Linked DNA regions of Homo sapiens: region 2 is linked to region 1. Evidence: fine-mapped expression QTL. A gene starts in region 1. The other region holds a variant in brackets. All regions are shown on one strand. Distances are between the middles of the regions. Region 1 holds the start of DDX43 (DEAD-box helicase 43). Region 2 overlaps KCNQ5 (potassium voltage-gated channel subfamily Q member 5).

Region 1 (5,386 bases):
TCTTGAGAATAAGGAGTATGAAGAACTTTGGCAACTTACCTAATTTACCCTAGTATGTTAATAACTCAGCAGAAATTAGAGTTAAGGCCTGGTGCAGTGGCTCATGCCTGTAATCCCAACACTTTGGGAGGCCAAGGCAAGTGGATCACTTGAGGCCAGGAGTTGAGAGCAGCCTGGCCAACACGGTAAAACCCCGTCTCTACTAAAAATAAAAAAATAAAATAAAATAAATTAGCTGGGCTTGGTGGTGGGAACCCGTAATTCCAGCTACTCAGGAGGCTGAAGCAGGAGAATTGCTTGAACCCAGGAGGCAGAGGTTGTACTGATATCACGTCACTGCACTCCAGCCTGGGAGACAGAATGAGGCTGTCTTAAAAAGAAAAGTAGAGTTAGGTGCTCCCTTAGAAATGCATGATGCTCTCTTAAGGGCCGAAAAACACAGATGGCTTACTTGGATTGTGGTGTTTGTTGTACTTTGTATATTCTTTATTTTTGACCCACCACGACCTGTTTTTAAAAATAAAGGAATATATTGTTATAAGTTGAAATTAGTAAGTTGAAAATTTACCCATTTTCCTCAACAAACATTCTCTAGTTCTTCCCCCCAAATGCTCCTAGGGTTCAACAATCATTTTTTGTTTGGAAAGAGGGAAGTAAGAGGTTCTATTCCAAATTTTGGTGGGTTTTAGGAGACTCTTATCCCAGACAGGTGGAGACTATGGATTCTGTATCAGCTTGCACAAAACTTAATTGGGTCCAAACTGGTGGAGAGGATGTAGAAATTGGAACTCTTTCATACAACTCAACAAATAAGTTTTGAAAAATGGGCAAACACTTGAATAGACATTTCTCCAATGACATACAAATGGCCAACAGGCATGAGATGTTCAACATCACTAATCAGGTCCACGCAAATCGAAACCACAAAATGATTGTCACCTCACATCTGGTAGGATGACCATTATCAAAAACAGAAAAAAAGTGTTGGTAAGAATGTGGAGAAATTGGAACCCCTGTGTACTGTTGGTGGGATTGAAAATGGTGCTGCCACTATGGAAAACAGTATAGATTAACTAAAAAATTAAAAACAGAATTAACATATGATCCAGCAGTCTCACTTGGGGTATACATCCAAAAGAATTTAAAGCTGAGTCTCAAAGATATATTGCACTTCCATTTTCATAATAACACTACTGAAATCAAAAGGTGGAAGCTACCCATTTATCATAGACTGATTAATAGATAAAGTAAGGTATATACTTAATAATGGAATACCATTCAGCCTTAGTAAGGAAAAAAATCCTGTCTCATGCTACAAAATGGGTAAGCCTGGAGGATATTATTCTTAGAGAAATGAGCCAATTACAAAGACAATTACTGCATGATTCTACTTATATGGATTACCTAAAGTAATCTAACTCAGAAACAATGTAAATGGTGGGTCCCTGGGATGGGGCAGGAAAAAATGGGGAGCTGTTCAATGAGTATACAGTTTTAGTCATGCAAGTTCCAGAGATCTGGGATACAACATTGTGCTTATTATTAGTATTGTGATATACGTTTAAAAGAGGGTATTTCATTTTTTACAATAAAAAAGATGGATCCAGATCCAACATCAAGTGAGTGCTCTGTAGCACAGTGCCCTTTCATCTGCTAAGTATTAACTTAAGTGATTTTTATTGCAAACCTAGTGGCTTTCTTTCTTGGAGCATCATTCTTCAGATCTGAGCCCAAGCCTTCTGAAAGGCCAATGAGTCTCTGGGTAGTACAGCAATTAGTCTTACAATGCACTATTTTGTAGCAGCCTCCATCTATTCATTTTTCTCAGGTTTTAAAAAGGGTGAAATACACCTAATAGGTAAAATGTGGCAATTTATACTCGGGCTTAATGGCAATCAATGGGGTAATCATTCTAATCATTTTTAAATGCTTTTCAAAAAAATTCAGAAATGGGCCGGGCTTACGCCTGTAATCTCAGCACTTTGGGAGGCCGAGGTGGGTGGATCCACAGGAGTTCGAGACCATCCTGGGTAATATGGTGAAACCTCATCTTTACTAAAAACACAAAAATTAGCCAGGTGTGGTGGCGCACGTAATTTCAGCTACTAGGGAGGCTGAGGTGCTAGAATCGCTTGAGCCCGGGAGGTGGAAGTTGTAGTGAGCCGAGATCACGCCACACTGCACTCCAGCTGGGGCCACAGAGCTGCCTCAAAAAAAAAAAAAATCAAAAGAAAGAAAAAAATTAAAAATTCAGAATTGAATGTTAACACTCAAGATGTAGTAAGAAAAGTTTTTAACTTTTTAAAAATTAAGGAAACTAAAAGCAAGATACAACTGCTCTAGGCAGCCCTACAATGACCTTATAGCTTTTCTTTGATTTCTGGCTCTAAATGGTACTCATAGAAAGACTGATTAAGTTTTGTTTTTCATTCTGGGGTTAGCTGTCTGTTAAAAGGCCTGTTCTAAGCATCCCTCTTCAGCCCTAAGATTTCATAAGTCTTCTAGGAGTTGCTCTCCCAAATACATTGTCTGTATAAACACCAAAAGGTGGATTAAATTACTTTTTTTTTTTTTTTTTAATTGAGACGGAGTCTTGCTCTGTCACCTAGGCTGGAGTGCAGTGGCGCGATCTCAGCTCACTGCCAACTTCTGCCGCCGGGTTCAAGCCATTCTCCTGCCTCAGCCTCCGGAGTATCTGGGATTACAGGCGCGCGCCACCACGCCCAGCTATTTTTTTTAATATATATATTTTTAGTAGAGACAGGGTTTTGCCATGTTGGCCAAGCTGGTCTCGAATTCCTGACCTGGGGTGATCCGCCCGCCTCGGCCTCCCAAAATACTGGGATTACAGGCGTGAGCCAACGCGCCCGGCCAGATTAAATTATACTCTATCCCCAGGTTTTACAAATAGCTCTGGGAGAGACCTGAACCTCACTAGGTGGCAGCTGATTGGAGGTGAGGCAGTGGGGAGGAAATGCCTTCGCCCAGGCTCCGCCCCTGGCCCCACCTATCCTGCCCTGCCAGCCACTCCCATTCTCACCGATTACCGCGCCAACAAAGTGGCTCTTCAAAGCAAAACACAGCGGCAGTTCCTCGTGACCAGCGGCCACGGCCTCCGGGGGCCTAGAGGTGCCTCTCCAGCGACCACCTCTGCCGACACTATATCCCTCAGGACCTGTTCGATTCAACTCCTCCGCCGGCCTCCTCTCTGGCGCTCGGGACACTGTCGAGCTTCGCCGACTAGCAACGACCCACGTAGAGGCCTTGGGAGCTCCTCCGTGGTGGGACATTGTTCCAAGAAGGGGCGCGTCCGACGTCGTTGCCGTCCAGCTCTGCACCACCTGACCGTGACGTCGTAAGAGTAGCGTGCCAGGGAAGCCACGCAGCCGCTACTTAAGGAGCCCGCACGAGGCTAGCCCCCCCGCCCACGCTCTCTATCCCGCCCACTTCGCACTGATTTCACGCAGCCATTGGCCAGTGAGCGTTGTGGGCGGGACTTTCCCAGTTTTAGCCAATCGGTTTTCTGAACCGTGGGAGTGTGCCTTGAAGTAGTCGATGTGCCCCGCCCCCCACCCCCCCACTGTGTATTCCTTTCCAGGCGTGGGACTTTTTCCAAACGCCCAATTTGCTCCCTCCCCTACTGGACACACACCTCGGGTTCCTGGCATCTCAGTGCCTTGGAAACTTTTTTTTTTCTTTTTAAATAGAGACGGGGTGTCGCCGTGTTGCCCAGGCAGGTCTTGAACTCTTGGCTTCTGGCTTCAAGTGATCTTCCAGCCTCGGCCTCCCAAAGTGCTGGGATTACAGTCAGCCACTGCACCGGAAATGTTTTCAACCGTGACCCATAAAGGTAAGTCACTGTTACAAGGTGACCCAATCCACACATAAAAAACTTGAAACAACAGATTGACAAAACAGCATTTATCCTCGCTATGTAAGCTGCATTTTGATACATTTACGCTTATTTTAGTTTTTGAAATGGTTGTAATCCACAAAATTAAAAAAAAAAAATTTAATAGAGATGGGAGTTCCCAGTATGTTGCCCAAGGCTGGTCTTGAACTCCTGGACTCAAGTGATCCTCCCACCTCCACCTCCCATAGTGCTGGGGTTACAGGCCTGAGCCACTGCACTCGGCTCACAAAATGTATTTAATGGCCCACAGCTTAAAGATCACTGACTTGATCCTTTTGTAAGTCATAAGTGTGATTGGGTTTTCATGCTCTTGTGTCAAATGTGCCTCCCTCAAACCTTGTTACGAAGTGGGCACACTACCCACCTGATGTGAAAAATGAAGAGAAAAAGATCACTGGCTTGAGAGACATTCATTGCTCTACACAGTCTTCTGGATGTTTGCTATGTTTTTTTTGTTTGTTTTCTTTTGTTTTGTTTTTGACCTCTGTCGCCTAGGCTGGAGTGCAGTGGTGCGATCACTCACTGCAGATTCGACCTGTTGGACTCAAGTGATACTCCCACCACAGCCTCCCGAATAGTTGGGACTACAGGTGTGCACCACCATGCCAGGCTAATTATTTTGTAAAGACAAGACCTCCCTATGTTGCCCGGGCTGGTATCCAACTCCTCCTGCCTTGGCCTCACACAGTTGAGGGATTACAGGTATGAGCCACAGTGCCTGGCCTGCCATAATTTTAGAGCTAAGGAAATAAATTGAATAGATTCCTGAAGCATTACCGTCACTGCAGCCTGGCTCTGTGGCTGGACATACTACTACTCCAGGGCTTCAAGCCAGCTGCAAGTGCACTCCTTTGATTAGGATCTTTGAATTATCTGAACAAATTTCAGTTTAGGCCAGCAGGGATAACTCATACCTGTAATCTCAACACTTTAGGAGGCCTAGGCGGAGGATCTCTTGAGCCCCAAGGTTCAACATCAGTCTGGGTAACATAGTGAGACCCTGCCGGGTGTGGTGGTACAGGCTGTAGTCCCAGCTACTCAGGAGGCTGAGGTGGGAGGATCACTGAGCCAGGGAGGTTGAGGCTACAGTGAGCCGAAGTGCCGAAATGGTGTCACTGCACTCCAGTCTGGGCAACAGAGCAGAGACCCTGTCTCAAAAAAAAAAAATTTTTTTTTTTTCAGTTCAATCATCCATCAAACACAGTGGACACCAGGCCAGGCATGGTGTGGCTCATGGCTGTAATCCCAGCACCTTGGGAATGTGAGGCAGGCAGATCACTTGAGGTCTGGAGCTCGTGACCAGCCTGGTCAACATGGTGAAACCCCATCTCTAATAAAAATGCAAAAAATATTGGCTGGATGTGGTGGCTCATGCCTGTAATCCCAGCACTTTGGGAGGCAGAGGCGGCTGGATCACAAGGTCAAGAGATCGAGACCATCCTGGCCAACATGGTAAAACCCCATCTCTACTAA
Region 2 (5,386 bases), 740 kb after region 1:
TGGAGTCTCACTGTGCTGCTCAGATTGGTCTCAAACTCCTGGCTTCAAGTGATCCTCCCACCTTGGCCTCCCAAACCATAATTTTATTAGGCTTTAAAATGTACCTTGATTCACAGGGTTTGGGTTATTAATAAAATAATTTGTTAAATGGTGTTGTACAATAAAATCTTGAAGCACCTAGGGACAGAGTCTAATGCATCCCAGATGCAATGGTCAATGGCAGTGATTAGTTCCAGGCCAAAAGTGTCAGAGCCAGAGATAAGATGCTCTCAGTGGACATAAATTTGTGTGGTGGAGAAACCCTCATAGAGCATAAATATCAGGAAGTTGAGTCTATGATGTTTATTGGATTCATAAATGAAGAAAACTAAATTTGCTTTTATTAGGTAAAAGGGAGATAAAAGCAAGACTAAGAATAATCAGTTGAGAAAGATTTTTGTTTTCCAGTTACTTGTGTTAAATGTTTTATTATAATTAAATGCATTTTAATATTGCAAAGATATAATAGATGAATAGACAATGTGATAAGAATAACTGAAATTATTTTTGCTCAGAGATTATTGTCTTTACTATGTGGGAAACTGAGCTTCATGAAAATTAAATAAAGCAATACATTTTCAAATATACCAATTGCTCCTGATGGAATACTAGGTAGAGATGCATTTGAGGACTGATCCTAGAGGCCAAACATGCAACGTTCAAGTTACAGTGGGTGAGGAGAGCTGCTGCCTTTTTAAAGTAATTAAGAAGACTTTCTAAAACTCCTGGGGCAACCAGTTCATAACACCATACTGTTTTGTGTGGTCCTGGGTCCCCAGTGAAATTTGGCTGCATGAGCGTCCAGGACAAGTAGAGTAGAAACAGCAACAAATTTTAATTATGCATCCACTTTGGTGGCCTTGTAAAGAAGAGAAGACACCATTAATACAGACAAAAGTGGTACTCTGCAGCTGAGAATCACCTGTGCCAATAAGGTTACTCTCAGATCTGTGCCAAATATCTGAGGGCAAATGGAAATTTAAAATACTATACAGATGTAAACTTTGGATGTATGGAATGTTCCTGAATATCTGCATCTTGGAAGACCCATATATAGATTCTTTCATTTTCATTCCATGCTGGTTCAGACTTTCATTAACTGCTAAACTATAACAATAAGTTCCCAGCCAGTTTCTCCAATTGCCATTTGTCTTCATTCCAGAATATACTATGCATTGGTGTCAAATCAGTCTTCTAAATTGCTGCTCCAGTAATGTTATTCCCCTACTCAAAATCCATTAATGGCTCTTCATTGCCTATTGAATCAATCCGAATTTCCTCATGATAGCACTCACAGTATGTCCCGACATATTCCTCTCTATCCAAATCTCCTATCAGTCTTCCACTTTTATGTCCCTTTTTCTTCAGTCAACAGGACAATAATTTCCTAGGAACACCACACACCAAGCTTGTCTCCATGTCTTTGCCCATGTTGTTCCTCATCCGGAGCCTGGCATTACTCTCATTTCTTACTCCCCGTTCCTCTCTAATTCCACTTTCTCTAGGAATTTCTTCTTGCTCTCTCTCAACCAGATGCTCTGTCTCTCCTTGGAATCTTCATAGCCATTTGGATGTCTCACTGTGATGGACAGATTCTCCTTTATATCATTTATATAACTGTCTCCTTAATTTGAAGACTGTGAGCTTGTGGTCTGTAGCACCTAACATAGTGCTAAAAAATGGGAAGTCAATACATATTTGCTGATTTGAACTGATCTAGCAGCATTTCAAGTATCCTTTGGTGACTAAGTTTTGTGTTATACAGATTATATGTCCATTACGATTTATTGTGGAGGATTTTTCTCTGTTTTTTTTTTTTCCATTTTGTTTGCACATAGCTACTGAAACAAGAATCCAAGGCTTGTTTTTTCTTTTCTGAGAGAAAGAAAGAAAAACAGAAAGAAAGAAAGAAAGAAAGAAAGAAAGAAAGAAAGAAAGAAAGAAAGAA[A/G]GAAAGAAAGAAAGAAAGACAGACAGACCTTGGCTATTAAACATGGAAACAAAAAGAAGGTAAGCAGTGTTTATTGGAAATATGTCTGGTTTACTACATGTTGTGCAGAAAATTACAGAACTAAGCATTTAAAAATGTTCAAGCATACTTAATTACAATTTAGTCAAAAGTACAGTTTTCTTTGTTCATTGAACAATTCCTTCAATACCTTTATTTTAATGAAAATAATATCACACTAGAATAAGTAGATGTATGTAATCATTTTCATGTGTAAATAGGTAAAAAGCCAAGAATAATCTATCTTTATCTTCATTTTCTGTTACTGAAACATATAAGAATGATCTTAAGCTCTAGAAAGCATTCAATTTATATAAAAGTGATTCTTCTGGAAATCACAATGTCTTAAAGTTGTCTTCTCCCCTCGTGCAGCACTCTCTTGATATGTCTTCAGCCTCTAGTCTTGTGTCATTGGGGACTTTTCTTTTCTCCTCTCCTATTTGTAATCACTAACCAACACTTCATGCCTAGTACATTGTTCCTTATTTCTAACTTTCACTCAGAAAACCGACTCACAAATTTATGTATTTCCATCCTTGGTTTACTGTACCTTGGTTACTGTACCAATGCACAGTATCTAGCACATAGTATCGGCCCACAGTAAATATCTCTTGGAAAACTAAATGAACAATGTTAAAGTTCTGGTCCAATTCATGAGATGACTACAGTCCATCTTCACTACAATTACTTTCTATCACTTTAAATCCAATATATTCCCAAACACAACTTAGTATCACCTCTTCATTCCCAAACCCCCAACACTCTTCCAGTTCCCTCCCCCAACTCCAGTTTCCTTCTATTCCAATTCTGATACCATATGGTCTCAAACACAATGATGTCATTTCTCTGTATTTCCCTTCTGTTTTCCCCTATCTAAAATGATGATCATTTCTATTTTTATGTTCCTATTGTCTTATTCTGGGTTATAGTCATAGCATGTACTCAATCACAGTATCAAGTATTCATTATGTGCTTACATTATGGTAGACACTAGGTTAAGTCCTGTACATAGGTATTATTTTTATTTATTTTCAAAGTAACTCAATGAGAAGATGCTATTATTTATATTTTACAGATGAGTAAACAGTTTTTCTAATATTTATTGAGTACAAAGATATGTAATTTGATATGAAACTATCTGATATCCAAATATGTATGTGTCCATAACAGAGTAAAATACATAATACCTTATCTTAATTTTTCTCCTAGAACAGTTTCTCTAATAAATATTTAAAAATAGTTGTCTTGAAAAATATTAAAATGTTACTTTACTTTGATAAATGAGTATCCTTAGCAAGAGAATTAACTATTTTTATATCCACATTTAACAACATGAATTAGTATTTAGCACACATTTGGACTGACAAAATAACATGCTATATTTGCAAAGATGTTATTCAGAGATTGGCATTCATGCAGTAATTTCAAATAAATATTTTTAATGAACGGTATAATGACCACAACTATACAATAATGTCATTGGTAAAAATCACCAAAATATAGTAAGAATTTTAAAAGGCATTTTTAGCTTCCTCTTTTGGGTATCAACCATTATCTTCTCTCTGAATAATACTGAAAGAAAATTTACATCTATGCAACAAATTTCACAATTAGAAATGGAGATAAAATTACATAAGCAGACACTAATGGAAAATCTATTAAAACAAAGGAGGATCTTTAAAGCCAAAACTTGAAGCACTCAGGAAAGAAAGAATCATTGAGTGTATCTAAGACAAGCAGTAAATGGCATGCTCCACTGATTCTGACAACCTGCAGGTTGATTATGAAACACCATCACAAAGGCTTCAAGACATGGAAAAATTCAGAAAATGTGGCAAGTGAAACATATTATAACGAAAATCCAAGGGAGAGGTCTCTTTTTTAAAAAAAAATGAAAGCCACTCTTATGGAATAAACAAACTATAGTAAGCAATTGCTACCATAATTCTTACAATCTCTGAATACCTGTGATTGTCTGTGAATAAATGGTACCAACTGAAATAGGGAATTCATCACAGAATGCTGTAAACAGCATTTGGGTGCACGGCTTTATATACGTATATATAAATTCACATAATCCTCAGTGTGATATAGTTCTAACCACTCTCATTTTCTAGATGGGAAAACTGGGGCCTGAAGTTTCCTTGTCTAAGATCATACTTAGAGCCTCTTGTGAGGCTGAATTGAACTCAGTCCTTTGACTAGGATTGGGTGTTCTTTCCTCACTAGCACAGTGCCTCTCCTCAGGGTTGAAACAGGATACAGGAATACAGCTCTTTTGACATTCACAAGTATGCCTTCTACCTCTCCAAAAGCCCACGAGAAATCCCACTGGCAACGGTGAGGAGAGAAAAAGGCTGTGATATGGATCAGAAAAAGTCTTACAGATCCAAGGATATTCAGGTTAGATAAGAAAGGGAACAGTACAAAGCCAGAGTGACCCCCAGTTCAATCCTGCTCAATTCTAGGGAATTACCACCAAGCAATTCTGGCTTTTTGTGGGAGAAGGAAAGGGGAGGGAGGAAAAAGAGGGAGGAGAAAAGGTAAAGAGGGAGGGGGAAAAACCAGGAGAAAAGAAGAGGGAGAGAAAAATGAGAGTGGGACTCAAAATTGGAGAGAATGATTCAGAGGAATTAATATCTCACTCTAAGGAAGCACATAATTAAAATTTCTTCATCTTCTGAAACATCTAACTAAAAAAGACACAGGCTAGAAAGCCTCTTTCTCTCACTTTTTTTTTTTTTTTTTGCTTCTGCCTCAAGCACTTTTAAAGTTGCCTACACATTACAGAATGTTTTGCTTGATTTCCTTTCAATGTCCCGGAGAATATTTGGAATGTTTCTTAATTTACATATGATGTGGTGTTATTTAGATATAGATCCCATGAAAGATAAAAATTTTTTAAAGTGAGTGTAAGTGTGAGCATTGAGACAGGAGAAGGAGGTAATTAAAAGAGATAAATAAAGCTTATAAAAGCCGCTTCTTACCCTAACCACCGTCATCAAAAAAGAAATCTGTAATTCATGAATAAAATATAATCTGAGTTTTACAACAGCATTATAAAGATTCTTTTTGAGTATAAGTTTTAAAAGTGTTATTGTGTTATAAAATTTAATGGGAAATTTTTCTTTCCCTTAAAAATAAACCCAAATACCACAGACATTTCCCAAAAATTCCAGCTGTCTGCTTGCTCTCCTTGAGTTATTCTATTTTCCTCCATTAGTAGTTTAAAGGTGTACTCTTTGATATGTAATATCATTTTAAGGAGTTCAACAGAATTAAGATTGTTCCAGTATACTCAGCCGTTTATTTTCACAAAATTGAGGTACACATTGCAAAATT

Evidence for each region.
Region 2: its variant is fine-mapped to the expression of DDX43 in monocytes after R848 (Quach 2016, PIP 0.95).

The regions. Positions count from the first base shown.
Region 1 is chr6:73,392,810-73,398,195 of GRCh38, reverse strand. DDX43 (DEAD-box helicase 43) reads right to left here and starts at 3,368. Exons shown (of 17, transcript NM_018665.3): 1 at 3,041-3,368; 2 at 452-507. The coding sequence starts at 3,290. It overlaps LOC124901538 (small nucleolar RNA U13), which reads left to right and starts at 4,183; the gene lies at 4,183-4,283. It also overlaps a transcript of OOEP not described here. RefSeq lists an enhancer at 3,251-3,751.
Region 2 is chr6:72,651,647-72,657,032 of GRCh38, reverse strand. The region is part of intron 1 of KCNQ5 (potassium voltage-gated channel subfamily Q member 5); the gene reads right to left. All of the region lies in intron 2 of KCNQ5-IT1 (KCNQ5 intronic transcript 1), which reads right to left. Among named protein-coding and RNA genes, the nearest start is that of KCNQ5-IT1, 24 kb to the right of the region's middle. The variant A/G (reference allele first, on the strand shown) is at 1,988.